Regions from separate parts of the Homo sapiens genome. Here region 2 is linked to region 1. Evidence: fine-mapped expression QTL. Tissue or cell type: breast. Region 1 holds a variant in brackets; the other region holds the start of a gene. All regions are shown on one strand. Distances are from middle to middle.

Region 1 (16,128 bases):
AACCCGGGAGGTGGAGCTTGCAGTGAGCCGAGATCATGCCACTGCACTCCAGCCTGGGCGACAGAGCGAGACTCTGTCTCTAAATAAATAAATAGTAATTTTTCACTTTTAAAGTAAAATTTATCTACTCATAATTTGACTACTTTTAGGTCCTAGTTTTTCATAGAATGAGTTAGGAAGGAAGGACTCCCTCTCCTAACTTCTGAAAGATATTGTAGAGAATTGGAAAAATTTCTTCCTTAAATGTTTGGTGGAATTCAGCAGCAAACCTATCTTGGCCTAATGCTTTCTGTTTGGGAAGATTAGCTATTGATGCCATTTCTTTAGTAGATATAGTCCTATTCAGATTGTCTATTCTTCCTTTTCAATTTCTCCCTAGTGACCCTCAGCTTTTGAAGGATTTTCGTCTCCACTGTCTTTTTCATTTTTTCCCAAACTCCAAGTACCCAAGCCACAAGAAAATAAAATTCCAAAGAAGATGAGGCCGAGGCAGGGGGATCAGGAGTTCGAGACCAGCCTGGCCAACATGGTGAAACCCCGTTTCTACTAAAAATACAAAAATTAGCTGGGCGTGGTGACTCATGCCTATAATCTCAGCTACTCAGGAGGCTGAGGCATGAGAATTGCTTGAACCCAGGAGGTGGAGGTCGCAGTGAGCCAAGATCGCGCCACTGCACTCCAGCCTGGGCAACAGAGTGAGACTCCATCTCAAAAAATAAAATAAAATTCCAAACAAGAAACAAATGCTTTGTTATACTATGCAACCCTATTGTTTATGCAGTTCTCTTTAGGCTTTTAGAAATATAATACATACCTAGTGTACAAATAGTTATCAGACATTTTATCATTCAAAAGCAGCCCCAAAGGAATATGACAATTTTAATTGATCTTTGATGCTGGTATGTGGTGGGTTACTTGGCCAGTGAGTGACCCTGGCTGATATCAAATATGATATACTTCAACAATTTGATTTCCAATACTTATTGAGCACTAAGAATGTATCAGGCATTATTCTAAAAGTTTTAGGTAAGTTTATTCCTTATAACAAACTTCAAAGATATATACTGTGGTCAATTCATTTTACAGATGAAGAAACTATGACACAGAGAGGCGAAGTAACTTGATAAGATCAAAACAGTAAGTAAATGGTATAGCCAAATTTTGAACACAAGCTACCTGACTCTAGAGGCCATAACCTTATCCACTACACTATAATGCAATTTTGTGGTTCTCTGTGCATCACTGAAGAAAAAACAGATGCTCACATAATTTTTTCTTATTTTGTTTCTTTGGAAAAATAAAGCCAATTGGCTAATGCTATTGAGATCTAAGAAAACTTCTGTTCTTGCTTAGAAATGTTAGTTCTTTTATCCATTAAACACACACAAAAAAAGCTGAATTTAGTGATGTCTCATATTATCTCATACATATCTGTCCACCACAGGCTCTAAATGGAAAAGGAGAAATAGCAGGTCATGAAACTGTTTTAATGAATGTTTAAGTCAGAAAATGTATATAAATGACTTTTATTCCATATTTAAACTTAAATTTTTATATAGGTTTTAAGTGTTATCTCTTTTCCACAAATTATTTATTACAAAAAGCTCAAGTTGTGTTTAACAAAATGGACTTATAACAAATGTCTTTTAAAAGATTCTAAATTTGTTAATTCTTAAGCTACAACCATAAGGACTTCCTGTGTCAGCTTCATTTGTGATTTCCAGATCCTTAGTTAACTTTAAGGATATGAATATTCTTTTGTAAGTAACCTTGGAAAACTGGACAATTTTATGACATATGTGCTTTAATAACTGGTGTAGCTGTTAGCTACCAGGTTAAAAAGGATGTATAGATGGCTTTATGTTGATGTGAATACTTGTTTTGAAGATATTTTTTAAATGTGGATAGGTAATGGGATGTGTATGCAAGGTAATGAATTTTATTTATCTAAGTAAAAAAGAATTATTTTACCTTAAGGAGAGTCTGGTTATGCTAGCCTAGAAGAGTATTTTTTTATTATTATACTTTAAGTTTTAGGGTACATGTGCACAACGTGCAGGTTTGTTACATATGTATACCTGTGCCATGTTGGTGTGCTGCACCTAGTAACTCATCATTTAGCATTAGGTATATATCCTAATGCTATCCCTCCCCACTCCCCCAACCCCACAACAGGCCCCAGTGTGTGATGTTCCCCTTCCTGTGTCCATGTGTTCTCATTTTTCAATTCCCACCTATGAGTGAGAATATGCGGTGTTTGGTTTTTTGTCCTTGTGATAGTTTGCTGAGAATGCTGGTTTCCAGCTTCATCCACGTCCCTACAAAGGACATGAACTCATCATTTTTTATGGCTGCATAGTATTCCATGGTGTATATGTGCCACATTTTCTTAATCCAGTCTATCATTGTTGGACATATGGGTTGGTTCCAAGTCTTTGCTATTGTGAATAGTGCTGCAATAAACATACGTGTGCATGTGTCTTTATAGCAGCATGATTTATAATCCTTACAATGAACTCAAACAAATTTACAAGAAAAAAACAAACAACCCCATCAAAAAGTGGGTGAAGGATATGAACAGACACTTCTCAAAAGAAGACATTTACGCAGCCAAAAAACACATGAAAAAATGCTCATCATCACTGGCCATCAGAGAAATGCAAATCAAAACCACAATGAGATACCATCTCACACCAGTTAGAATGGAGATCATTTAAAAGTCAGGAAACAACAGGTGCTGGAGAGGATGTGGAGAAATAGGAACACTTTTACACTGTTGGTGGGACTGTAAACTAGTTCAACCATTGTGGAAGTCAGTGTGGCGATTCCTCAGGGATCTAGAACTAGAAATACCATTTGAAGAGTATTTTTTAAACTTAAGAGTATTCAGGCCGGGCGCGGTGGCTCACATCTGTAACCCTAGCACTTTGGGAGGCCGAGGTGGGTGGATCGCTTGAGGTCAGGAGTTCGAGACCAGCCTGGCCAACATGGTGAAACCCCATCTCTACCAAAAATACAAAAATTAGCCAGGCATGGTGGCAGACACCTGTAATCCTAGCTACTCAGGAGGCTGAGGCCGGAGAATCACTTGAACTCAGGAGGGCTGAGATCACACCACTGCACTCCAGCCTGGGAGACAGAGTGAGATTTCATCTCAGAAAAAAAGTATTCAGAGAGTGTAGAAGTTCTGAGGAGTAAACTGTATTTGACAAGTTAGGGGTTGGAAAGGATCAATAAATGTGTCAAAATTTTTGACGAAGCTGGTTAAATGTGATGGATGTATTCACAGGAAGAAAGGCTTATGAAGCCATTACTACATATTGTTAAATAGAAGACAAGTAACAAGAGTAAAACTATAATCTGGATTTTCTTTCTGATAAAACAGCAAAGCTATCTCTGGTGAGATAACAAAGATTTCTTCTATCACTGTAACATTCTATCACTAAGCATTTTGACATATTAAGTCATTTTTTAAAAAAGCTAAAATACTAATTTGGAAAAACTAAAATACCTAATAATCCTAGTCACATATTCTTTTATCTTTTATGTTTGTGCACCAAAATTAACTTGATATGGTTCAAATGTAGACTAACGGTTCAACAAATGATGTTGGGAAAACTGGATATTCACACGCAAAAGAATGTGCATATTCATTTACCATTCACAAAAATTAACTCAAGATGAATCAAAGACCTAAATGAAAGAGATAAAACTATAAAACTCTTAGAAGAAAACACAGGAGTCAGTCTTCACAACCTTGAATTAGGCAATCGTTTCTTAGATATAACACCAAGAACAGAAACAAGAAAAGAAAAACAAAGATAAACTGAATTACATCAAAATTAAAAACTTTTGTACTGCAAATGATATCAACAAGAAAGTGAAAAGATAACTCACAGAAGAAAATATTTGCAAATCCTATTTTTAAGAGACTTGTATCTATAATAAACTCCTAGCCAGGCACAGTGGCTCATGCCTATAATCCCAGCACTTCAGGGGGCTGAGGTGTGTGGATCCCTTGAGCACAGGAGTTCAAGACCAGCCTGGACAACAGAGTGAGACTAGATCTCTACAAAAAATACCAAAAAAAAAAAAATTAGCTGGGCATGGTGGTGCGCACTTCTAGTCCCAGCTACTCGGGAAGCTGAAGTGAGAGTATCACTTGAGGCTGGGAGGTCGAGGCTGTAGTGAACCGTGATCGCACCACTGCACTCCAGTCTAGGCAACAGAGGGAGATCCTGTCTCAAAAAATTGAAAAGAAAAAAGATAAAAAGAAATGAAGTACAGATACATGCTACAACATGGAATAATCTTGAAAACATTATGCTAAGTGAAGGAAGCTAGTCACAAAAGACCACTCTCTCTGATTCCATTTATATAAAATATCCAGAAAAGGCAAATCCAGACACAAAAAGATTAGTGGTGGCTTAGGGATACTAGAAGCTGGGAGATGGGGATTAACTACTAATGGATATGAGGCTCCTTTTGGAGGAATAAAAATTAGATTGTGATGACATTTGCACAAATCTGAGACTAAACTAAAAAGCATTCATTCATTCAATTGAGACAAGGTCTCTGCTGTTGCCCAGGCTGGTCTTGAATTCCTGGGCTCAAACAATTCTCTCACTTCAGGCTCCAGAGTAGCTGAGATTACAGCTGTGCACCACTGCACCTGGCTCTTTAAATGGGTTAACTGTAAATGGGTTAACTGTGTGGAATATGAATTATATCTCAATAAATCTTTTAAAAATTAAATTCTTTAATTTAAAAAAAATTTTTTTTTTTGAGACTGAGTCTCATTCTGTTACCCAGACTGGAGTGCAGTAGCACCATCTCGGCTCACTGCAGCCTCCACCTCCTGGGTTCAAGTGATTCTCCTGCCTCAGCTTCTGGAGTAGCTGGGATTACAAGCATGCACAACCATGCCCGGCTAATGTTTGTGTTTTTAGTAAAGATGGGCTTTCACCATATTGGCCAGGCTGGTCTTGAACTCCTAGCCTCAAGTGATCCACCCACCTCGGCCTCCCAACGTCCTGGGATTACAGGCGTGAGCCACCATGCCCAGCCACCTTTATATATTTTTGACTAATATTCATATCTTCTCTCCTCTGACAACTCTTTATAATTTTGGCCTTTCCCAAATTCAGGCACAGTAAGACTATGAAGATGTCTTTTATGCCTGAACTCTTCAGGTTTCCTTCACATTATGGAAGAAAAGACAATAGGAAAAATTAGGTTTGTTTGGCACTCTACAAATTTTAATTAATCCCCAATCATTTTAAGACTTTTTTTTTAAAAAAAATCAAACTTAAAAGAAAAAAAGAAAACTTAACAAATCAAGAGATTAGCCTTCTCCTGTTAATTATGCCAGGTAAAATTTGTGAATAAAAATGTTTCAGTGTTTCATTTCAGGTAAAAAGAAACATGCTCATGTTCATGTAAAGACTAACACAATAACTGTCTGCAAAAAGATATACTTTACGAGATTACAGACCAAGAGAATTATCACTGAATATTGTCCATAATATGTTGTACTCTCATAATCATTTTATAAATTGTATTGTTCCTCAATAGTGGATTCCACTCTTCTCTAATCTAGAAAAACATCATTGTCTGCAACATCCTCAACTATCAGCAAACTTAGTCTTCTGGAAGAGACATCAGGGAAAAACTGGCCTCAGTGAAAAATTAGCTCAGCAGATACTGTAACAACTAGCATGGCAGTAAACTCCAAGATGATGATCACTGGGTTTATGTTTCCCAACTAAATGACAAGTACCTTCTCCAGACAGCTAAACAACCACTCCATCAGGAGACCTTAAACCAATGATTCTTAGGAATCCTCCAGAAGCCAACATCTTTGGTGGAAGACTACTAATCAAGACCTTCAAATCAAACAAATGACAATACAAAGTAGACAGCATGGCAACAAGGAAGGCTACAAGGCAACAAGGAAGATTAATTTTCTGATACCTTTGCTACTTTCCCTCTTCTGCTTATTACAGTTTGGTACTCCCTAGAGATTGCCTAAAGGTTTCTCAGTATTCTCTCACATTTATCATTTTATACTTAATTCTTTATGGTGTTTTTTGGCCACCTTAAGAATTTTGAGCAGTTTTCTCAAACTATAGCTACTCCCTGAATCTTTCAAATTCCACCATAAAATATATATATATATATATTTCCTTTAAATTCTTGAGGAGGCCAGTTAATTCCCACAGGTCCCTTTTGGTATTTGAATTTTCTTCATATCATTAACCTCACTCTTCATTCTTGTAAAAACTGGATCTCTACCTTAATTAAACAAATATACTTCTGCTACAATCATTACAGCACTGTCAGCAGACAGAATCAAGCTCACCAAGGCAGGGGACAAATGTTGGAGCTATCCTCACTGCACTAGTCAGTTTTCTCCAGATTTTTCAGACTTCTCTGTAGGAACTATTTAACTCCTCTAAGAATATGCCCACCTCAAGGAAACAATTCTTGGCTCACTCCTGTTGTGATAAATATTTATATTTCTACTATCTTCTGTAACCCAGCCGGCATTATTTATGTCAACACCAGGTTTTTACCTGCCTCCTGTACACAAACCTACCTTGCATATATAGAATAATTGTTAGATGTTCAGATATTTAAAGCCCTTTTCTTTCCAGCATATCACGTGTCTCCGAGAATAACCAGAAACTTCCAAAATAAGGCAGGTATAGGCTACTCAGGAAAGCTCCCAGAAGTGATGACTCCTTATGCATACTGTGCAAGATACTATTCTAGAAGTAAGAATAATACTAGAAAATGTGGCCCAAAATTTCACTCCCATCATCTGCTCTGGAAGCCCAAGAAACTAGTTTAAATTCACTACAACCCAAGATTATCATGAATAATCATATATTCTTTTGATTTCTTAGCAGACCAAGGAATAGTTTGTGTTTACTTAGTATTTCCTGTTGTATCACTACAAAAATCACTGGGAAGAGGCTACCTGACTGTAGAAGAGGCACAACTGAACTTCAGGATGTTTTTTCAGCTTGGGTTTGGCAATCTAGGTCCTAGATACAAGTTGTAGTACATGAATAATCATTTTGCTTCTGGAAATTGTATTGCAATTAGCTGATGTTTTCTGTGCAGAGTATTAAAGACTGTTGTGTAGCCATTGCCAAGTCTCATGATTCAACAATTGCTATGGTTTGAATATTTGTCCCTTCCAAAATTACGTTGAAATTTTAATCCCAATGTGGCAGTACTGAGAGGTGCGGCCTTTAAGAGGTGATTGGATCATGAGGGCTCTGCCCATAGGTTAAGTTATCACAGGAGGGGAACTGGTGGCTTTATAAGAAGAGGAAGAGTGACCTCAGCTGGCACAAAAGCATGCTCAGCCCCCTCACTGTGTGATACGCTGCACTGCCTAAGGACTCTTCAGAGTCTCCCCACCAGCAAGAAGCCTCTCACCAGCTGCAGCCCCTTGGCCTTGGAATTCTCAGTCTCCATCATTGTAGGAAAAAAAAAAAAATCCTTTTCTTTATCAATTACCAACCCAGCACTTTGGGAGGCTGAAGTAGGATTGCTTGAGCCCAGGAGTTCAAGCCTAGTCTGGGCAACACAGTAAGACTGTGTCTCTGCAAAAACATCAAAAAAATTAGCTGGGTATGGGGGTGCACGTCTGCAGTCCCAGCTACATGGAAAGCTTGGGGCAGGATGAGCACTTGAGCCCAAGAGGTCATGGCTGGAATAAGCTGTGATCACGCCACTGCACTAAAGCCGGGACAACAAAGCAAAACTTCGTCTTAAAAAAAAAAAAAACATTTAAGTCAATAAATTACCCAGTTTTGGGTATTGTTATAATCAACAAAAAATGAACTACTAACCATCCATTAACAAGAAGAATCCTATATTCTACACATAAATGCCTACCAGTATTAAATAAAAGCTCACCAATATGGCAATTTTATTAAACTTATATGAATCTGCAGATATAAAAAGTGACAGCCAACCTGTATTAATTGGAAAAACTGACAATCTTAAGAAATAATCTCTGAAAATAATTTCTCCATATTTAAAAATGTATACTTCATATGTTTTTCAAGTCTCCCAAATTTTGAAATAGGTAATTGAAAAGTTAACTACTCCAGCAAACCATTGTTTCATTTCAATAAATGAATGATTACACATGCAATGGTACTTGGCACACTACTGTTTGGTATAGGTTTTATTTTTAAGTAAAAAAAATGAATCATAGCCAAAACAAAATGTCTTGCCTTTGAATGGTATTTTAAGCTTAAGGGGAAAAAAGTCTTTAATGATGAACATATTTTCATTTTTCAATGTTTTTAATTTTTAATAAAGATTTTTAATTAAGCTTCAGTCTCTAAGCAGTTTTTAAACTTAGGTTTCGTGATCCTTTGACCTCATACTTTTAGATGGAGTCAGTTATCTTCAAAACATGACAAATTTCAGAATCCATTAAAAATTATTTTATTCAAATTATGTTTTCCAAAAGAGAGGGTTCTGTGCTAGTCGTCTTTGAAAGTTTTCATACCTAGAAAAGAAAACACATATATTTACATTCACAAGAAAATTAAAATAGGATCTTTCATTAACTGCCAAATGACTTATCCAAAACAATTTTACATGTCATTTCTAAAAAGCTATAAAAAATCTAAAAAGATAATCTGGAAATGTAATTATTCTTATAAAAAGACAGCAAGCATAGGAATTTAAATATCGGGGCAGTTTTGATTAGCTTTTATCAGAGAGCACAAATCATAAGAAATTTTAGTAATTGTTTATCTTCTGCAAATTTAAGACCTAGAAGGGACCTAAGGAAAAAAATCAAATTCAACTCCTATTTCCTCATTCCACAGATGAGCAGATGAGAGAAATTTGCTCAGGGTCACATAGCTACATTATGCCAAAATTCAAACCTAGTGCATTCCAATGCTCTCCATGCTACACCATGGTACCACTTCTCAACAAACTCTTCCTAGGCATCCTCCCATCTCTAGGATACTCAAAGTGAAAAGAAATATCTATAAAACACGGGAAAGTTGGAAAATAGATTCATTAGCCATTCATGTACACAGTGCAGTATAAACTACTCTCATAGATGGTACTTCTAAATGAAAATACACAAATATTTATAAGCTTTAATAGTGGTCCCTAAAACATAGGCAACTATATTTTCCTGTCTTTATAAATTCATAATGGCGACAATATAACAAAATATTTAGGGTAAGAACTGTTTCTCATCAGATCTCTATAGT[A/G]CATACTTTAATGGCATGCAGTGCTGATGTTCACAATAAAAGAATATGTTTAAATGTCAAAAAAGGAATATATTCATAGACAAAATAGATATTCAGTTATAAAAAGCCTTAATATTGGAGACAGAAAATGCCTCATACCATTTCAGAACCACATTTGCCGGAATGAACATTTCAGATGGGCTTGGTGTCATCTGGGCCTGAGAGACAGCAAATGATGAAGCAAAATTGTAGAAATTGTCCAACATCTTTTGTGTGAACTGAAAAGTTAATAATAGATTAATGGATTATACTGAATACTTCATTTAGAACTCAATATTTTTAAATTAAAAGTGTTCTCACATTAACTTGTTTATAGGGAGTGTCAGTTCTAAGAGAGTCTAATGCTGAAAGCTGGCTGGGTGCGGTGGCTCATGCCTGTAATCCCAAAACTTTGGGAGGCTGAGGCAGGAGAATCACTTGAGGCCAGGCATTCAAGACCAGCCTGTGCAACATAGTGAGGCCCTGTGTCAAAAAAATAAAATTAAATAAATGAATAAAAAAGAATGTTAAGAGTAATCATACATACAATGACACTGTGAAATATGCTACTCACTTTGGGGAAAAAAAAAGAAAAAAATTTTTCTTCAAAATATTTTCTTTCATCTCCATGTCTGCATCCACTATGTCCCTCCTCAATTATCACTCTCCTCAAATCAACCTATTTTCTCATATAAAATAGTAACCATCTCTAAGAAGTCTTTTACCTGCCAGAAAGATAAGAGTTTACATATTATAAAGGAGCAACTGGTTATTTCCATTGCTGGAAAGAAGATAAAGGCAGCACTATTCCATTTCCTCTGTTTCCTAATCTGTTTCCCTTCCTTGACTCTAAAATGATCAAATTCACTAACATACTCCAAGTCTCCTTGGTAGAAGCTAGAAGTAAATGGACTCACATTTCCTGAGAATCAAATGGGCTTAAGTACTAACCCTAAAAGTAACTGAACTTCTGAAGATAATACTACCTTCTACTCACTCAAAAATAACCTTTCCAGCATCACTTTCTCAAATATACAAAATCAGCCATGCCTTCTCTTCTCTACACAAGAGAATTGGTCTTATTAGGTTTTTTTATTCAGTTGTTGAATAATATGAAGGCAGTATAATCCAAGAGACTCTGCTGCGAAGGCACCTGATTAATATCAAAAGTTCAGTAAAGTCACTAACAGTTTCTTCGTTTGTTTTTGAGACAGGGTCCCACTCTTTCACCCAGGCTGGAATGCAGTGGCACAATCATGGCTCACTGTAGCCTTGATCTCCCAGGCTCAAGTGATCCTCCTGCCTCAGCCTCCCAAGTAGCTGAGATTATAAGCATGCACCACCATGCCTGGGTAATTTTTTATCTTTTTATAAAGACAGGGTCTCACTATGTTACCCAGGCTGGTCTCAAAATTCTAGGCTCAAGCAATCCTCTCACCTCAGCCTCCCAAAGTGCTAGAGTTACAGGCATGTGCCACTGTACCCAGACTAAAGTCACAACTAAAAGATCAATATTAGGAAAAAAAAAAAAAATCAACAGCAGTCCTCCACACCAGTGACAATAATTTTTAAGTGTAACTGAAATCTTTAAAAGGATTCCATTCAGAATATAAACAAAGCATTTTCTCCAATACCTAGAAAAAATGCTAAGACAAACTAGTAAGATTTTTGTGGAAAATATTATAAAGACTACTAAGAGACAGAAAAGAAAACAAAAGGACCTATATATACCATTTTCAATGGAAAGATATACCATGTTCAATGGAAAGACATAACATGTCACATATGGAAAGACAATGTGGTAAAGGTGGCCAATTCTCCCCAAATTAAACCCATATATCCAATGTTATTACCAACAAAATTCCAACAAGGTTCTTCATGAAACTTGACAAGCTAATACTATTTAATGAAACTCAACAAGCTGATATAATTATTATGAAGAATACCTACACAATTATTATGAAGAATACCTATACATATTTTGATGACTGTGAGGAGGAACTTGCCCCACTGGCAAAGAGACAGGCAAATAAACTAATTGGAATAAAAGAGACAGCCCAGAAATAAACCTAAGCATATATGACAAAGATGCTATTACTCATGGTAAAAAAAAAAAAATGGGACAAATTACTCAATTCATGGGGCTAGGACTAGTTTTCCATAAGGGGAAAAATGAATTTAATTCCCTTACCATACTGCACACAAACATATTCAAAAAGTAAACCTTAAGGCTTTAAGAACTGAAAGACAACATCTTAGGCTCTGCTTGAGGCCAGGAGTTTGAGACCAGCCTGGGCAACATAGCGAGACCCCCAGTCTACACACACACACACACACACACACACACACACACACACACACACGAACATCTTTATATCTTTACATATCAGGACAGAGAAGGATTTCTCAAACATTAAAAAACCCACAAATCCACAAATCATAAAAGAAACAATACATTTATCTATATACAAATATAGTATATCTGTATGTAAAAGTCACTATAAGCAATGTTAAAAGACAAGCACCATGCTAGAAGGAGAAAAATGCAATGTATTTACAAAGGATTATTATCCAGAACACATAAAGGCATCTTAGGTTTTTTTCCCAAAAGACTAAATTTAAAAAGTGCCAAAAGCAATACAACAGAAAATTGGACAAAATATATAAAGTCAATTCCTATAAAAGGAAATACAAACACAGCCAAAAGTGTGCAAAGATGCTCAATATCACCAGTAATCAAGAAACACAAACTAAGTATGATATTCTAATTTCACTCATCAGTTTGGCAAAATTTTAAAGGTCTGATAAATGTTAGTGAGAACATATGAAAAAGGAAATGAAAAAAACTGGCTCATTTATACAATGGCACACTATGAAGCAATCAAAACAAAGTATATTCCATGTATCAACATCGATAAATCTTTAAAATAATGTTGAGTGAACAACAGCAAGTTATACAGAATAATACTATTTATATTCATTTTTAAAACACACAAAAGAACAAATCAACAAGAAGGAAAAACAAAGGATTCAACACAGAAGAGAAACAAAAAGAATTTCTGTAGTAATGGTGAAATAATACCTTGTCTATGGCTATACAATAGGTCCAGAGAATAGTCAGTCAACAGTAGAACAAAAAAGAAAGGACAGTCTGGGCAACATAATGAGGCCCCATCTCTACAAAAAATTAAAAAGTTAGGTGGGTTTGGTGATGCTTGCCTGTAGTCCCAGCTACCAGCTACTAGTGGGAGCCCAGGAGTTTGAGGCTGCAGTGAGCTGTGATTGCACCACTGCGTTCCAGCCTAGGCGACAGAGCAAGACCTTGTCTCAAAAAAAAAGAAAAAAAAAAAAAAGGAGAATTCCAAGTGGAATGTTTCCGAGACCAATTTGAAACTGATATGTTTAAATAAACTGAATGAGAATTTACACTTAGTAGAGTTTGAGCATAAATTAGAAGTAGAAACATAGAAATCTATGCAAAGGAAAAAAATGAGGAAAAATGAAAAATTATACAAGAAAAGAAATGTAATCGTTGTACCACACATAGCTCAATTCTGAAAAATATTTACCTTCTCATAATACTGTAAACTTTTAATACTGATTTAACAAAAATGTATACTGATAAGGTGGGGAGAAAAGAAGTATGTACATGTTGGGAAGCAGGGAAGTGAGAGAGTTTCATCATGTCTTATATTAGCAAATAAATAGAAAACATCTATAACAGAAAAACTAACAGATTTTAAGCAAGGTTTTTTCTGATATATGGAAATAACAGACACTAGGAAAAATAGATTAAAAAGGGGAGGGAAGTTGAAAATCATAGCTTCTAAGGAGCAGAATAGAAGTAGAATGTAAGAGTCATAACAGAGGACAGCTGTTTCACATATTACACTATTTGAGGCTGGGCGTGATGGCTCACGCCTGTAATCCCAACACTTTGGGAGGCCAAAGTGGGTGGATCACGAGGTCAGGAGTTCAAGACCAGCCTGACCAACATGGTGAAACCCCATCTTTACTAAAAATACAAAAATTAGCCAGGCCTGGTGGCACGCGCCTGTAATCCCAGCTACTTGGGAGGCTGAGACAGGAGAATTGCTTGAACCTGAGAGGCAGAGGTTGCAGGAGCCGAGATCACGCCATTGCACTCCAGCCTGGGCAACAGAGTGAGACTCCATCTCAAAAAAACTATTTGACTAATATCCAGAATCTACAAAGAACTTAAACAAATTTGCAAGAAAAAAACAACCCCATCAAAAAGAGGGCAAAGGATATGAACAGACACTTCTCAAAAGAAGACATTTATGCAGCCAACAGATACATGAAAAAATGCTCATCATCACTGGTCATCAGAGAAATGCAAATCAAAACCACAGTGAGATACCATTTCACAACAGTTAGAATGGCGATCATTAAAAAGTCAGGAAACAACAGATGCTGGAGAGGATGTGGAGAAATAGGAACGCTTTTACACTGTTGGTTGGCGTATAAACTAGTTCAACCATTGTGGAAGACAGTGTGGCAATTCCTCAAGGATCTAGAACTAAGAAATACCATTTGACCCAGTGATCCCATTACTGGGTATATACCCAAAGGATTACAAATCATGCTGCTATAAAGACACATGCACACATATGTTTACTGCGGCACTATTCACAATAGCAAAAACTTGGAACCAACCCAAATGTCCACCAATGATAGACTGGATTAAGAAAATGTGGCACATATACACCATGGAATACTATGCAGCTATAAAAAAGGGTGAGTTCAAGTCCTTTGCAGGGACATGGATGAAGCTGGAAACCATCATTCTGAGCAAACTATCACAAGGACAGAAAACCAAACACCGCATGTCCTCACTCATAGGTGGGAATTGAACAATGAGAACACCTGGATACAGGGCAGGGAACATCACACACGGCGGGCGGGTCTGTCTTGGGGTGGGGGGCAGGGGGAAGGATAGCATTAGGAGAAATACCTAATGTAAATGACGAGTTAATAGGTGCAGCACACCAACATGGCACATATATACATATGTAACAAACCTGCACGTTTTGCACATGTACCCTAGAACTTAAAGTATAATAAAAAAAAACTATTTGACTATTTAAACCAAATACATGTAATACTCATAAAAATTTGGAGTAACTAAGTAATTAAATTAGAAACATGTTTAAACAGATACAGATAGTACTATACATATTTTGTGGATACACAGGAATTTTTTTAAGTACTAAAATATGAATAGGAAAGATATAAAAAGTTAGAAGGTAAAAGGCAGGAAGAGAAGCAGGCAGCAGTGGGCTATATCTATAATGCCTTAATTTCTTTTTTAAAAATTAGTGGCAAATAAGACAAAATATAACAGTTAAATCCAGGGGGAAGACAATGGAAGTCTTAATGTATACCCCACCATAAAGAGAGCTCTGTAAAGACAGGTGTTATTCTATTTTGTGGACCTATTTGTATCTATGAGTGCTTAGAAATGCCTGGTACAGGCTGGGCGCGGTGGCTCACGCCTGAAATCCCAGCACTTTGGGAGGCCAAGGCAGGCGGATAACGAGGTCAGGAGATCGAGACCATCGTGGCTAACACGGCGAAACCCCATCTCTACGAAAAAATACAAAAAAAATTAGCTGGGCCTGGTGGCGGGCACGTGTAGTCCCAGCTACTTGGGAGGCTGAGGCAGGAGAATGGCGTGAACCCAGGAGGCGGAGCTTGCAGTGAGCCGAGATCGCGCCACTGCACTCCAGCCTGGGCGACAGAGTGAGACTCCGTCTCAAAGAGAAAAGAAAAAGAAAAAAAGACATGCCTGGTACAGAGTAGTTACATAATAACTATTTGTGGAAAATATAAGTTACTCTATTTTCTCTGTATTTAAAATATTTCGTAATACATTTAATTAAAACTATAGTTTTATTTTAAAAACTCAAATAATTTATAAACATGTACAGTAAAAAAGTCTTCTTACCCTTCTCCAGGGATAACATTTTAATGTGTATTTTCCAGACACTTTTAAAATATTGTCTACACAGGATACTACGATTATTTTATAGTTTGTTTTCAGCACAGCAGCTTATTTGTAAAATTATGGGAAAAAAAACATTTTTGAGACCCAGAGTCTGTCATTCTCAATTCAGTCCATTTTCAAAGATGTGACAAATCTACCTTTACATTCATGACCACAACCTTCAAAAGTGCGCCTCTGGTACTGCCAGGCAAACACATATGGTTTCCCTAATCCATTCACTCCTCCTCTGCTAGAAGACTTATTTAGTAGTCTTTTTTTATTTCAATTTCTACTACCTCGATCTTAGCTGATGATCGTCCTTTCTATTTCACTAAGCAAGAAGAAATCAGGAGACAGCCTGCACAAGTTCTCATCACCACATCTACCAGCCTCCTGAATCTGTACCCATATATCCATTATCCTGTCTAAAGTGAACACCTCCATATATGCTGCTATTTTCTACTCAAGGACACTGCTTTAGCAGTTCTCCTTGCTCTCCTACATCATCAATTTTTCCTCTTGATAATAGGCTAAGAAGTCAGGAACAGAAAGACAAATAGCATGATTGATCTCACTTATATGTGGAATCTAAAAGTTGAACTTACAGAAGCAGACAGTAGAATGATGGTTGCCAGGGGTTGAAGAGTGGAGGGGAAGGGAAAATGAGGACATGTTGGTCAAAGGGCACAAAGTTTCAGTTCAATGGAATGAATAAATTCTGAAAATCTATTGTACAGCATGGAGAATACAGTTACTAATAATGTATACTTGTAATTTGCTAAGAGATCAGATCTTAACTGTTCTCTACAAAAAAATGATGACTGTGTGAGGTGACTGATATGT
Region 2 (16,128 bases), 27 kb before region 1:
ACCAGATTCCCACAGCCAAATATCCAGGTAAATATAAGAGAAAAATCTCCTTGTGCTTCAGGTGGGAGGAAGAAAAAAATACCATTTTTAAATATGCCAGAGTACTCTGTTGTCCTTAATGACCTGCCCTCAGAAGAAACTAGTTCACCAGAGCCTAACCTGCTGGGATATTATCAGAGCCTAACTGACCTGAGAGAAGGAAAATGACCAACTCCAGTCCACTTTAGCCATTCTGTCCCACCTAAGGAGAAAGGAAAAATCTGAGAAACATTTGTAAAGTTCACAGTCCAGAGGCACAGGCTCACTAAAAGACTGAGACCTGATCATAGGACTATAGAATGCTTTCCCACCCCCCACACTCTACCCCTACATTACTAAAGGCCTATTTATAGCAGTTACTTTTACCCAGTACATCACTTCCAGCTATCAAGAAAAAATTACAAGGCATACTAAAAGGCAAAACATACAATATGAAGAGACAGAGCAACCATCAGAGCCAGACATGGCAGGGATGTTGGAACTATCACACTGGCAATTTAAAACAACTATGGCTAATATGCTAAGGGCTCTAACGGATATAGTAGACAGCATGCAAGAACAGATGGGCTACATAAGCAGAGAGATTGAAATCCTAAGAAAGAACCAAAAATAAATGCTAGCAACTAAAAACACTGTAACAGAAATGAAGAATGCCTTTGATAGGCTTACTAGTGGACTGGACATGACTTAGTAAAAAATCTCTGAGCTTGAAGATGTGACAAGGAAACTTCAAAAGGAAAGCGAACAAAGACTGGAAAAAAAAAACCCAGAATATCCAAGGATTGTGAGGCAACTACAGAAGGTGTGTACCCATAATGGGAATACCAGGAGAAGAGGGAGAAATATTAGAGGAAATGCTTGAAACAATTACTCAGAATTTCCCTCTAATGTCAGACATGAAACCACAGATCCAGGAAGCTCAAATAACACCAAGCTGGATAAATACCCAAAAAAAGATACCTAGGAATATCATTTTCAAAGTACAGAAAATCAGAGCTAAAAACAAATCCTGAAAGAAGCCAGGCAGAGAGAGGGAAAGGAACACCTCATCTATAGAGAAACAAAGATGAGAATTATATTGAACTACTTCTCAGAAACCAAGCAAAAAGAGAGTACCATAAGACATTTCAAGTGTTGAGAAAAAGAAAACACCAACCTAAAATTCTGCATCCTGTAAAATTATTTTTCAAAAGCAAAGGAGAAATTATTTTTCAGACAAACAAAAATTAAGGGAATTAATTGCCAGTAAACCTGCTTTTCAAGAAATGTTAAAAGATGTTCCTCAGAAAAAAGGAAAATGATGTAGGTCAGAAACTTGGATCTGCATTTAAAAAAAAAAAAAAAGGGAAGACCATCGAAGAAGGAATAAGTGAAGGTAAAATAAAAACTTTTTTTTTCTTTGAGACAGGGTCTCATTTTGTTGCCCAGCCTGGAGTGCAACGGTGCAGTCTTGGCTCACTGCAACCTCCACCTGCTAGGCTCTCAAGCAGCCCTCCCACTTCAGCCTCCTGAGTAGCTGGGACTACAGTCGTGTGCCACCATGTCCATCTAATTTTTTTGGTTTTAATTTTTTGTACAGACAAGGTCTCACTATATTGCCCATGCTGATCCTGGACTCCTGGACTCCAGCGATTCTCCCACCTTGGCATCCTAAAGTGCTGGGATTACAAGCATGAGCCACTGCACCTGGCCTATTTTTATTATTCTTAGCTGACCTAACAGATAGCAGTTTGTCTAGTAATAGCAATAATGTATTCAATTATGTATGCTTATGCATATATCATATATATTTACATTTATATATAAGTGAAATGAAATGAATGACAGCAATGATACAAGGGATGGGAGGAAGGAATTAAGATTTTGTTATTATAAAACAATCACACTACCTGTGAAGTGGTACAGTGTTATTTGGAAGTGGACTTGAATTGACTGTAAATATATATTGTAATCTAAGGCAACTACTAAAATTTTTTTTAAAAGTATAACTGGGCCTGGCACGGTGGCTCACACCTGTAATCCCAGCACTTTGGGAGGCTGGGGTAGGCGGATCACAAGGTCAGGAGATCAAGACCATCCTGGCTAACATGGTGAAACCCCACCTCTACTAAAAATACAAAAAATTAGCCAGGCATGGTGGCGGGTGCCTGTGGTCCTAGCTACTGGGGAGGCTGAGGCAGGAGAATGGCATGAACCCAGGAGGCGGAGCTTGCAGTGAGCCAAGATCACACCACTGCACTCCAGCCTGGGTGACACAGCAAGACTATGTCTCAAAAAAAAAAAAGTATAACTGATATGCTGAAAAAGGAGAAAATGGAATCGTAAAATGCTCAGTGGAAAATAAAGATGGGTACAAAAAACAAGGGCAAAAAGTAGAAAACAATAACAAATATGGTAGGTATTAATCTAGCTATATCAGTAATCACTTTGAACATAGGCTAAGTGTACCAATTAAAAGACAAAGATTGCTGGAGTGGACCAAAAAACAAAACCCCACTATATCTTGTCTAAAAGAAACCCAATCTAAATCTAAAAACATATAGATTAAAAGTAGATGGATGGAGGAAAATACAGCATGATAATACTTATCAAAAGAAAGTAGGGGTAGCTATATTAATTTTAGAACAGACTTCAAATCAAGGAGAGTTGTCAGAAATAAAGAGCATTACATAATAATAGAGGGGTCAATCTTTCAAGAAGACCTAAGAATTTTTAATATGTATGCACCTAAAAATAGTATGTCAAATTACATTAAGCAAAAACTAGTAGAACTGCAAGAAGAGATAAATGAATCCATTATCATACTTGAAGACTTCAGTACTCACCTATCAGAAATGAACAGATCCAGCTGGCAGAAAATTAGTAAAGGCATAGTTGAACTCAACAGCACCATCAATCAAATGGATATAGTTGATATCTACAGACTAGTTCATCCAACAGCAGTAGAATGCACATTCTTCTCAAGCTCACATGGAACATTCACCAAGACAGACCATGTTCTGGGCCATAAAACACACCTTAACAAATAGAAAAGGATAGAAATCATACAATGCCTGCTGTCAGATTACAATGGGATTAAAGTAGAAATGAATAAGAGAAAGATAAGTGGAAAATCCCAAAATACATGGGGACTAAATAATATGCATCTAGATAACACATGGGACAAGTCAGAGGACTGTCACTACCCAACTTCAAGATTTACAATAAAGCTGAGTCATCAAGACAGTGTGTATTGACAAAAGAACAGACAAATAGATTAAAAGGACACAAAAGAGAGCCCAGGAATAGACCCATATAAATACAGTCAACTTATCTTTGACAAAGAGGCAAAGGCAATACAATGGAGCAGATAGTCTTTTAAACAAACATTGCTAGAACAACTGGACATCCACATGCAAAAAAAAAAAAAAAAAAAAAAGAACCTAGGCACAGACCTTACACCTTTCACAAAAATTAACTTAAAATGGATCATAGACCTAAATATGAAGTGCAAAACCACAGAACTCCTAGAAGATAACATAGGACAAAACTTAGATGATCTTGGGTATAGCAATGACTTTTTAGATAAAACACCAAAGGCATAATCCAAGCAAGAAATAATAAGATGGACTTCATTAAAATTTAAAACTTCTGCTCTGTGAAAAACAATGTCAAGAGAATGAGAAGACAAGCCACAGACTGGGAAAAAATATTTGCAAAAGACACTGTCATGCAAAATATACAAATAACTCTTAAAAACACAAAGAAAAGAAAAACTCAATTTAAAAATGAGCCAAAGCCCTTTATATATATCTCATCAAAAAATGACAAGCATATTAAAAGGTGCTCCCCATTATTTATCATCAGGAAAATGCAAAATAAAACAATGAGATACCAATACACCATCTATTAGAATGACCAAAATCTAAAATACTGACAACAACAAATGCTGACAATAACATGGAGTGACAAGAATTCTCATTCATCGCTCTTGGGAATGCAACATAGTACAGCCCCTTTGGAAGACAGTCTGGCAGTTTCTCACAAAACTAAACATCCTCTTACCATACAATCTAGCGATTATGTCCCTGGGTATTTACCCAAGTGAATTGAAAACTTATATCCAGTTTTTTAAAACCTGCACACAGATATTTAAAACAGCTTTATTCATAATTGCCAAAACTTGGAAGCAACCAAGACATTTTTCAGTGGGTGGACAGATTAAAAAAAAAAAACCTGTGGTACATCTAGATAATGGAATATTATTCAGAACTAAAAAGAAATGAGCTATCAAGCCACAAAAAGACATGGAGGAATATTAAATGCATATTGCTAAGTGAAAGAAGCCAATCTGAAAAGGCTTAAACTATATGATTCCAACTATATTACATTCTGGAACTGGCAAAACTATGAAGACCGTGGAAAGATCAGTGGTTTCCAGATTTTGGGATTAGGGGTAGGGGTGAATAGGCAGAACAAAGGGGAGTGAAATACTCTATATGACTATAATGATAGATACATGTCATTTTACATTTGTCCAAACTCATAAAATGTACAACACCAAGAAAGAACTCTAATGTAAACTATGAAACTTGGGTGATTTTGATGTGTCAATGTAGGTTCAATTGTAACACATGTACCACTCCGGTGAGGGATGTTGACAATGGGAGAGTCTATCCAAGTGTAGGATTAGACAGTATGTGGGACATCTCTGTCTGATATGGTTAGGCTTTGTTTCCCCACCCAAATCTCATCTTGAATTGTAATCCCTAGGTGTTGAGGGAGAGGCCTGGTGGGAGGGGATTGGATCCTGGGAGCAGTTTCCCCCATGCTGTTCTCATGATGGTGAGGGATTTCTCACAAGATCTGAGAGTTTTATAAATGGCAGTTTCCCCTGGTCCCCCGGGCTTCTCTCTCTCTCTCTCTCCTGCCGTCATGTAAGACATGCCTGCTTCCCCTTCTGCCATGATTTTAAGTTTCCTGAGGGCTCCCCCAGCCATGAAGAACTGTGAGTCAATTAAACCTCTTTCCTTTATAATGACCCAGTCTGGGATAGTATCTTCATAGCAGTGTACAAATAAACTAATATATTGTCCCTCCTTCTTAATTTACTGTGAATCTACAACTACCCTAAAAAATCATCTTTAAAAAAAGTTCTTACTGTACCATTTACCTCCTCCCTGGTATCATTTACCTAAATTGTAAATTTGCATTGATTTGTGTGATTATTTGATTAATGTGCATCTTCCCCACTAAACAGTAAATTCCAAGATGTTTGTTCACCGTAAGTTAACTAGTGCTCAGCATATAGCAGGGTTTCAGAATTCCTTGAATGACTATACATAAATTTACAAATATAGCAAATGTTTTTAAATTCATTAAGCCATTATCTTCAATGCATCTTTCAGGATGATTTGAGAGGAAAAGATAGGAGTGATGCAGGGGAAGAGAAAGAAGCAGCCATTCCTATTTGTTTTCTGCGGTCATTTGGTTAAAGCCTAAGCAACATCTCTAAGTTACAATGGTTTGATAATAATGAGTTTGCATTCCTGCAGCACCTCTCTTCTCCTGTGGTTTGCAGACAGATCTCAGCCTCACTTTGGGGTGACTCTTCTACAAACGATGCTAAAAACAGATCTTGTCTTGCTACTAACCAAGCCTAATGAGTTTTCTCTGAGAAGGTGCCAGGTCCCCTTCCAAAGTACTTACCCTGTAGCTTTTTATGATCATCTCATTTTCTTAATACAACGGCATGATGTCAAAGGCAACAAAATCAACCGTCTTTGCATGAACTCTCAAAAGGAGCCATTTAGGGTCCCTGCATCTCTTTTCTCTAGGTAGGCAAAAGGGTTGTGATCCATCCCAGCGAGTGGTGTGGGAGTGGCTGTTTTTACCTAACCTTTATTGAGCACTTACTTTGTGCTAGTCCGTTTATTGAGCACTTACTTTGTGCTGTCTACGCATCCCCTGGTTTAATCAAAACCAGAAAAGGGTCTCTGGGCGTCCAACGTGGGCAGGATGTGATTACCAGCTGGTTGTCAAGGCAACTTAGCCACGGCAGGCCAGGCCTGAGCCAGGGAATTGGGAAGTGGGTCCCCCCGCCTCCCCTGCAAGCAGATGAAGATTCAATCCCCAGGGCCACCCCCTGCTACCCAACACGCTTACCCTCCTGGCTCAGCGAGGGCAGAGTGGGCAGCACCTGCCTGCCCAGGTCCTGCAGGGCACGGGCGATCGTATCCAACATCTCCAATTTCCAGGTGACTCCGTACTGAATGTTCGATGGGTCTCTTCTTTCTTATATGGAATGTGCACAAAAATAATTTTCCCACCCTCCAGCCCCTTCTCCACGGAGCTTTGGATGTGCCTTAAAAATAAGAGTGACGAAAATCTTGAACTTCTTGACTCTTTTTCTTCTTTCTTAAATAAACTTAAACATTGGTTCTCGCCGTCCCTCCCCACTGCTCTGGCTCTCGGGCAGCTCCCACAGCAAGAGCCGCAGGAACTGATGTCCGGCACCGAGTGAGAGTGTGCAGACCCGCGCCCTCCTGACCAACGAGAGACCCAATGAGGGGTGAGCTGCAGCCTCGAGGAAGGGAGGGGCACCAGGGAGAATAGGCCCGGCAGAGGGAAGGGCGCGTTGCTGGGACGCGAGAAAGGCTCGCTCGGTTGCTAAGGCGTCAAGGCTGGGATTCGACCTCACCCCCTTAGATGGGCGGCTTCCAGGTTGCCCAGGCGATTCAGAAGCTCGAGGCAGCGAGGTTGGAAGTAACTTAAAAATAAATAAATAATGGGTTTTTACTTCTCTGACCCCGGGCAGCGAAGAAACGTGGTTAGAGTGGTAGTTTTTGTACCTTGGACAAATCTAGGAATGCCTTTTGCCCAGAGAGATCGATATTTGAGTCTCCAGATCTGTTTGAGAGTTTGAGTTTGAGCTGGAATTTGTTTCTTGGTTTGCTTTTCCCTGGGCTCTCTTCCTAGGAAATGGAGAGCTGGAGAAGTGGGGAGGAGGGAATTGACTTTTTTTAAACTACAGTCATTTCCCCCTTTTCTCTACATGTCACCAATCTCATCCTGAAGAATTGCGTGCATGCTCTCCCCTCTGCTGGTAATTATCACAAGCTGAACATACCTATGCAAAACCCATCCAGGTCAAAAAATAGAATGCTAGCACATTGCACAGATCAGCACTTCATTACCCCTCCAGTCATTAGCCAACACATACTGCAGATTCATTTTGCCTGTTGAATCTTTGGAATCATATAGTATGTATCCTTTTCTGTCTGGCTCTATTCAAATTCACATTATGTTTATGAGGTTCATCCATAGTTTCTATGGTAATAATTTCTTCATTTACACTGTTGCATATTATTCCTTTTTATGAGTATGGCACAATTTATGCATTCCACTGTTGAAGGGCATTTGCGTTGTTTCCCTTTGAGGCTACTGGGAATAAGGCTGCTGCAAACAGTCTCACAGAACACTTTTGACAGATAGATGTACTCATTTCTGATGTGTATATAACTAGGAGTAGATTCATGGGTCATGAGAAATGCATATGATCAATTTTAATAGATAATGCCAGCTAATTTTTAGTGGCAATATCAGCATTATTGTTCCACATTAAGATAATGGAATTATAAAAATAATTGTTTTACAATACATTAGATTTTGAATTAAATATAGTGGTACTTTTAATCTCTAGAAAAGCTGTCTTCAGTTCCAGAAGATGGTGGTGGATGCTAATTATTAGTGAATTGTAGATGGCTAAAGGAAGCTGTAAAAAGAATAAGGACAAAGACTTTTCTTCCAAGGTTTTACTTTCCTTTTGTCAAAGGTCTCTTGACAAAAGAGGCTGTGTAGATACATGTAACCCTGTGTTGACTAGAAACTTTTAATGAGCTATAAATATTATATATCCTGAAAATACATACTTTTCAGTTGCTATTAAAACTCAGGCAAACTATGTACTTCCACTGCTACAAATTTGGATATATTTGGATATAAAATTGGATGTATTAGCATGATACATACAAAGATATATGTATATGCAACATTGTTTATAATGTTAATTCTTAGAATTAGCCTAAGATGACCATCATAGGGAACTGGTTAAATTGTGAATACATACATTGGAATACATTTCAAGAGTTTACTTAAAAGGAAACTGCACATTTACGTGCTGATGTTGAAAAAGTTTCAAAATATAGTAAGTGAAAACCAGTAGCAGCATAGTATTTTTATATAATGTAATCCTGTTTCCTTCAAATATAAGTATATAAGTATGCATACGTATTCATATATATTTTTGTAAACATATGGGATATTTGAGGAAAGATACATACACAAAAATATTAACAGTGGAATTTTGGATCAGGCAAAATTTTGTATGGTGGAGGAGGCATTCCAAGAACTTTTATATTCACTTTTCTCCTTTATTTACTGTTTAACAAGGGCATGAATTACTTTATAATATTTAAGATAATTTACCAAAGAGAGGAAGAGAGAGAGGTACAGGTAGAGTGTAGGGATTTATGCAAACACTGAAGGAAACAAACAGGGCCAAAATGTTCCCAAGTATTTCAATGTACATTTACTTTTCTGCAAGCTCCAACTTGCCTTGCAAAACCCACATTGAATGGGCAGTCATTTTTACCCAAGCCCCAAGGCACACACAATATTAAGTGGCTTATATTAAAGGCAACTTGGAAAAAAAAACTATTGAAAAAGAAAACATAATACTCATTATACAACACCAGAATAGAAATTTGCAATAAATAATTTAACCACATCTATTGAGTACCTAATTTGTGCCAAGCACTTTGCTAGTTGCTAAAAGGAATACAGACACTTAACCAGAAAACCCCTACAGATAAGAAGTTCACAATTCATTTTTCACCATTTTAACAAATATTTATTGCAGGAGGTTCTAAAATCAGGATTGGGTTTCAAAGTTAAAGTGTAAATTGAAAATTGGATGTGGGAAAACTACTCCAGGAATCCCTTCTTAGGAAGGGACCATATCAGAGACCCACATATGCCATCTCTCAGTTTATAGACCCAATGCAGTCTTTCTCTCCTCACACTGGAGCAGATCACTTTCTTCAGGAGAGATGTAATGAAACAGTTGGCTAGAGTTTAGGAAAGCAGTCTTATTCTAAAAATTCAACCAAATAGAATTGTATGTACTCAACACTGTGCCATGCTTACACTATGATACACACTCATGAACTGAGACAGATTGAAAATATAGCAGATGTATATCTTCTGTCCCTTGCTTACTCAAGGATTTATGCAGAAACAGACTTGCGGTAGCTTCATAGACTGTGAACTTAGCCAAGATAGAACTACATTTTCCAGAATTCCCTTTCCTATATGATTCTAGGTTAGGGTTAGTCAAAAGAGAATGTGTGTGAGATTTGGAAGGCAGAAGTAAAGCAGCAGCCATGTGATCTGAAGCCCTAAAGGTCATTGTAGGGCCAGGCACTGACCTGCTGGCTCACCGTGTAGGCATGGGCCAGCAGCCTGGCCTGCAGCTTTGCAGCTCCTGCCAGATCTCCTCATTCTGCTTCTCTCAATCTTAGACCAGGTACATGTGCAGCAGTGTTGCCAAAGGTACTACCTAATCCTATAAGTCCCTCACATCACTGAGGTTGGACGCAAGGAAATACAGATGCAGGTTGCAATTTGTCCTCACAGGATCTAGTTTGCCTGTGTGTAACCGCCCAATGGGTTCATCTTGCCTACTGCCCAAATGAAGCTGATTTATCAAGATGGGGGAATTGCAATAGAGAAAGAGTTTAATACAGGCAGAGCTGGCTAAATGGAAGACTGGAGTCTTATTATTACTCAGATCAGCCTCCTTGAAAATTCAGAGGCTAGGGTTTTTTAGTTTGGTGGAAAAGGAGCTAGGGAATGGGGAATGCCGATTGGTTGGGTCAAGTGATGAAATCATAGGAAGTTGAAGCTGTCGTTTTGTGCTGAGTCAGTTCCTGGTGGAGGCCACAAGACCAGATGAGCCAGTTTTTCTGTCTGGAATGTGCCAGCTAACCCATCAGAATGCTGGGTCAGAAAAATCGGCTCAAACACCAATCTTAGGTTTTACAATAGTAATGTTATCTATAGAGGCAATTGGGGAAGTTAGCAATCTTGTGGCCTCTGGCTGCATGACTCCTAGGCCATGGTTTCTGAGCTTGTGGCTAATTTGTTGGTTTTACAAAGAACAATCTTGTCCCCATGCAAGAAGGGAGTTTGTTTCAGGGAGGGGCTGTTATCATCTTTGTTTCAAAGTTAAACTATAAATTCCTCCCAAAGTTAGTTCAGCCTATGCCCGGGAACGAACAAGGGCAGCTTGGAGGTTAGAAGCAAGATGGAGTTGGTTAGGACAGATTTCTTTTACTGCCATAATTTTCCTATGTCAGATTTTTCTCAGTGTCATAATTTTTGCAAAGGCGGTTTCACTTGTAGGTTCCAGATTGTTCTCACCAGTTCCAATCTTTCCTTATTCTTCCCCATTTCATGACCATCTTTTCTTCCTATTAGCCTTGCTGTCTTTAGGCCCTACACCAGACACAGAGGCCAACACCAGACAGAGATGACTTAACCAGCTCTTACAACTATGTAAGGGCTAGTGCTCATAATAAATTTTATATTTTCTATCACTCTTACAGGTTCTGCTTCTCTGATTGAACCTGAATGATACAGAACTGGTAGATAAAACTAAAGTATTTCAATTTAAAGTATTCTCTTTAAGTTTTACTTAGACTTGAATTCACATAAATTATGTATTTGTGCACTGCAACTGTATTGTAAAGATTTATCTTAGTCTGTTTTGTGTTGTTGTAAAGGACTACCGGAGAGACTGAGTAATTTATAAAGAAAACATATTTATTTGGTTCACAGTTAAGAATGGCTGGAAGGTTCAAGATTGGGTATCTGCATCTGGTGGAGGCCTCAGGCTGCTTCCATTCATGGCAAAAGGCCAAGGCAAAGGGGAGCCAGCTGTGCAGAGATCACTTGGTGACAGAGGAAACAAAAGACGGGTAAGGGAGATGCCAGGCTCTTTTTAACAGCCAGCTCTGAGGAATTAATAGAGTGAGCACTCACTCCCTACCGAGGGAGGTCATATATCTCTATTCATGGGTTTCGCCCCCATGACCAAAACACCTCCCATTAAGCCTCATCTCCAATATTGGGCCAGGATCAAATTTCAGCATGAGGTTTGGAGGGGACATCAAACCGTAGCATATGTTAAATGTCATGTTTGAGGCATGAAGACAGTGTAATGGGAATTCAAGGGGAGGAAGATTATATCTCTGTTAGGCCATTCTTGCATGGCTATAAAGAAATACCTGAGACTGGGTAATTTATTTTAAAAAGAGGTTTAATTGGCTCATGTTTCTGCAGGCTGTACAAGCATGGTGCTGGCATCTGCCCAGCTTCTGGGGACGCCTCAGGGAGCTTTTACTCATAGTGGAAGGCAAAGCAAGAGTAGGCTTATCACATGGCGAAAGCAGGAGCAAGAGAGAGAGTGGGTGGGGGAAGGTGCCACACACTTAAACAACCAGATTTCGCAAGAACTCATTCACTACCGTGAGGATGGCACCAAGCTATGACGGATCCACCCCCATGATCCAAACGCTCTCTGCCAGGCCCCACCTTCAACACGGGGATTACAATTCAATGTGAGATTTGGCAGGGACAGATATTCAAACTATGTCTGCTTCTAACTGGGATGATTGGCCTGAATGCTAAACAAAGAAGCTTGAATTGTATTTGGAAGGTGTGGATAGTTCCTGAAGGCCTTGAATAAGAGAATGACCTAATCACCACTATATTCTTCTGTATTACATTAAAAAGAAGTTTGAATTTCATTACATGTTATAAGTAATCCATATGTCAGATAACAACTAATCAGAGAAATTTCTCAGAGAGATAGGGGAAAGCTACCAAATAACTAAAAGGATAACCACAGGAAGGCTGGCTACAGAATGATTAATGTGGTTGAGTGACAGCCATTTAGAAGCTTTTGACAGATGAAACTGCAAAGATGCATTCATTTTCTTACAATACAAATGAAAAAAAGTAAATTAGCTAAGGTGATAAATGAGATTACCTTGACATTAAGCTGTGGAATGATCTCCCAAAGAAAAAATATAGAAAACTCATCAATTCAGACTATTTGAAAATAGACCATTTCAAGTAGGAGTTAACACACTATTGTTATTCTACCTGGACTCTTTGCAGAATAAAAGTCATACAATAGGGCTTTCTTATGTTTAATAGATGTTGTCTCAATAAATAATAAATATGATAATAATACCCGTGTATATAACATTATCTATTTATGATTAGAAGAGAAAGTTAATATTTAAGCTGTACTCATCTGACCTACACCTCTTATAAGCATTTTGCACCTTTTTTCTATTTCACTTAAGCTAAAGTGAGGAATTTGGCATTTGGAAATCTGAGCTCAAGTCTAGTATTAACATAAATAGGCTTGTGTTTATAACTGAATAAAATCTTAATATTTCTGAGCCTGTTTGTTGTTAAAATAGTAATAATGACTGTAAATGTTAACAGAGTATATCCCAGTAAACTTAAAGAAATAATGATAAAAGTAAAAATAGGAAAAAAAGCTCTTTGGCTTCCAAAAATTCTAAACCTGCAGATTCTTGCCCCATTTTACCATAAGATTATACCACTTTACATAGGCAAAACCAAATGTATATTCTATAAACAAAAGAATACCTTGACTATTTTTTAAAATGGAGACTACTGATAAATAAATTTTGAAAAATTGTAAAATAAGTGACTTTAGGCAATGTATGGTAAGTTGGTCAGCCAATTCACTTCACACAATATACAAAAATTAACTTAAAATAGTTCATAGACCTAAATCTAAAAGTAAAAGACATAAAAGTTCTAGAATAAAACATAAAAGAAAAATCTTGTGATCTTGAGGTTAAGCAAATATTTAAGATAAAAAGCATTAATCATAAAAGTTAAAAACTTGATAAGTTGGACTTTATCAAAATTCAAAACTTTTGCTCTTTAAAGGCATCATTAAGAAATGAAAAGTCACAGAATAGTAGAAAATATTCACACTACCAATACCTGACAACTGGTATATAAAATGTATTTTTAAAATCTCCCAAAGCTCAATAATAAGAAGATAATTCAATTTCTTTAATGGACAAAATATTTGAACATACATTTTACAAAAGCAGATGTATAAATGGTCAGTAAGGAGATGGAAAGGTTTGCAACATGGTTAGTCATTAGGAAAACACATATTAAAACTACAATGAGACAACACTACATTAGGATGGCTACAATTAAAAAGACTGATAATACCAAATGTTAGTGAAGATGTGGAACAATTGGAGCTTATACTCTCAAGGTGTGAATGTAAAGTAGTTCAAAAAACTGGCAGTTTCTTATAAAGTTAAACATACACCTACCATATGACCAGCCATCCTAGTTCTAAGCATTCAACCTATAGAAATAAAAAATATGTGTTCACACAAAGTGTTAAATGCAAATATTCATAGCAGCCTTATTCACAGTAGCCAAAAATGTAAAACAGCCCATGTGTCCATCAAATGGAAAATGGATAAACAAGTCGTAGTATATCTATACAAAGTAACACTACTTAGTAATAAAAAGGAGTGAACTACTGACATAGGTAATAACATGGATGAACCTCAGAATCATCATGCTGGCTGATAAAAACAAGACACAAAGAATACATACTGTGTGGTTTCATTTATATAAATTGTAGAAAATGCAAACTAATTTATAGTGAGTCCAGCAAATCAGTGATTGGCTGGGGCCAGGATCAGAAGGAGAAATGAACTGCAAAGGGGGCATGGGAAATATTTTGGGGTGTAATGGATATATTCTGTATCTTGAATGTGGTAGTGATTTCACAGGAGTCTACAGCTGTCAAAATTCATCAAAGTGTGCACTCTAAATGGGTGCAGCTTATTGTATGTATCCTGATGAGGATTTTTTTTTTAAGAAGAAACCCAGAATTCTAGGAAAGCAAACTTAAAAGCTTAATAAATGCAAACTTAAATAAAATTTAGTTAATTCATAAGTTGACTAAAAAGTAAAGAACTTACTTGAGGATTTTAACAGTAGACAGAAAACAACATATGTCAAGAAGAATGAACTTAATGAAATTATCCAAATTGAACCTCAAAAAGGAAGAAGGTAAAAAGAACCTCACACAGTAAGAAATGTGAAATATATGAAGTTCCAGGAAGAGAAGACAGAATAAGAAGTAATCATTTGAGAAAAATGGCTGATAATTTTCCAAATTGATGAAAAGTATTAACAAAATCTTCAAGAAGCTTAGCAAGTCCCAAATAGGATAAATACAATGGAAATGACACATAGGTACATAAAAGTCAATTTATTGACTTTTATTAACCTTATTTATTAAATAGGGCATTGAATCTATAAATTATCTTGGGCAGTATGGCCATTTTCATGATATTGATTCTTCATACCCATGAGCATGGAATGTTCTTCCATTTGCTTGTGTCCTCTTTTATTTCGTTGAGCAGTGGTTTGTAGTTCTCCTTGAAGAGGTCCTTCACATCTCTTGTAAGTTGGATTCCTAGGTATTTTATTCTCTTTGAAGCAATTGTGAATGGGAGTTCACTCATAATTTGGCTCTCTGTTTGTCTGTTATTGATGTATAGGAATGCTTGTGATTTTTGCACATTTTCTATCCTGAGATTTTGCTGAAGTTGCTTATCAGCTTAAGGAAATTTTGGGCTGAGACGATGGGGTTTTCTAAATATGCAGTGTCAACTGCAAACAGGGACAATTTGACTTCATCTTTTCCTAATTGAATACCCTTTATTTCTTTGTCCTGCCTGATTGCCCTGGCCAGAATTTCCAACACTATGCTGAGTAGGAGTGGTGAGAGAGGGCATCCCTGTCTTGTGCCAGTTTTCAAAGGGAATGCTTCCAGTTTTTGCCCATTCAGTATGATATTGGCTGTGGGTTTGTCATAAATAGCTCTTACTATTTTGAGATAACGTCCCATCAATATCAAGTTTATTGGAGTTTTTAACATGAAGGGTTGTTGAATTTTGTCAAAGGCCTTTTCTGCATCTATTGAGATAATCATGTGGTTTTTGTCTTTGGTTCTGTTTATATGATGGATTACGTTTATTGATTTGTGTATGTTGAACCAGCCTTGCAACCCAGGGATGAAGCCAACTTGATCATGGTGGATAAGCTTTTTGATGTGCTGCTGGATTCGGTTTGCCAGTATTTTAATGAGGATTTTTGCATTGATGTTCCTCAGGGATACTGGTCTAAAATTCTCTTTTTTGTTGTGTCTCTGCCTGGCTTTGGTATCAGGATGATGCTGGCCTCATAAAATGAGTTAGGGAGGATTCCCTCTTTTTCTATTGCTTGGAATAGTTTCAGAAGGAATGGTACCAGCTCCTCTTTGTACCTCTAGTAGAATTCGGCTATTAATCCATCTGGTCCCGGACTTTTTTTGGTTGGTAAGCTATTAATTATTGCCTCAATTTCAGAGCCTGTTATTGGTCTTTTCAGGGGTTCAACTTCTTCCTGGTTTAGTCTTGGGAGGGTGTATGTGGAAAATGACTAAGTTTGTGCTGACATAAACAAAGCAAATTACTTCCATATGTTTGTTTAAAAAAAATAACTTTCCTGCAAAGAAATGCCAGGTTTATATGGCTTTAATGCTAAATTCTTACAAATAATTCAAGAACAAATAATACTGGATTTACACAAACTATTCCAGACAATTAAAAAAGAAGAGACATGTCTGAACTCACTTTTTAAGACTGGCAAAACATTGATACCAAAATATGACAGTACAAGTAAGGAAATTTATAGTCTAGAATCTCTCTTGAACATAGATATAAAAATCGTAACAAAATATCGATAAATTGGCAGGGTGTAGTGGCTTATGCTTGTAATCCCAGCACTTTGGGAAGTCAAAAGTGAGAGGATTACTTGAGCCCATGAGTTTGAGACCAGCCTGGGCAACATAGTGAGATCCTGTCTCTAAAAAATGTGTTTACATTGGTGGCATGCATCTGTAGGCCCAGCTACTCAGGA

Which allele goes with the higher level. Positions count from the first base shown, and alleles are read on the strand shown. Sizes are in standard deviations (SD) of each study's normalised expression.
For the expression in breast of the gene that starts at base 6,539 in region 2, A is the low allele of the variant in region 1 and G is the other (small effect, 0.35 SD a copy in GTEx).

The links.
Region 2: it holds the start of CCDC81, and the variant in region 1 is fine-mapped to the expression of CCDC81 in breast (GTEx, PIP above 0.99). The same link has a PIP of 0.9 or more in atrial appendage, cerebellum, gastroesophageal junction, sun-exposed skin and transverse colon.

What each region holds. Positions count from the first base shown.
Region 1 is chr11:86,337,992-86,354,119 of GRCh38, reverse strand. HIKESHI (heat shock protein nuclear import factor hikeshi) reads right to left here. Exons shown (of 5, transcript NM_016401.4): 4 at 9,399-9,517; 5 at 8,177-8,536. The coding sequence ends at 8,482. LOC105369421 (a long non-coding RNA gene) reads left to right here. Exons shown (of 5, transcript XR_007062826.1): 4 at 1,087-1,137. Among named protein-coding and RNA genes, the nearest start is that of CCDC81, 29 kb to the left of the region's middle. The variant A/G (reference allele first, on the strand shown) is at 9,261.
Region 2 is chr11:86,365,298-86,381,425 of GRCh38, reverse strand. CCDC81 (coiled-coil domain containing 81) reads right to left here and starts at 6,539. Exons shown (of 15, transcript NM_001156474.2): 1 at 6,184-6,539. The coding sequence starts at 6,262. The region is part of intron 2 of LOC105369421 (a long non-coding RNA gene); the gene reads left to right. RefSeq lists a silencer at 6,505-6,799.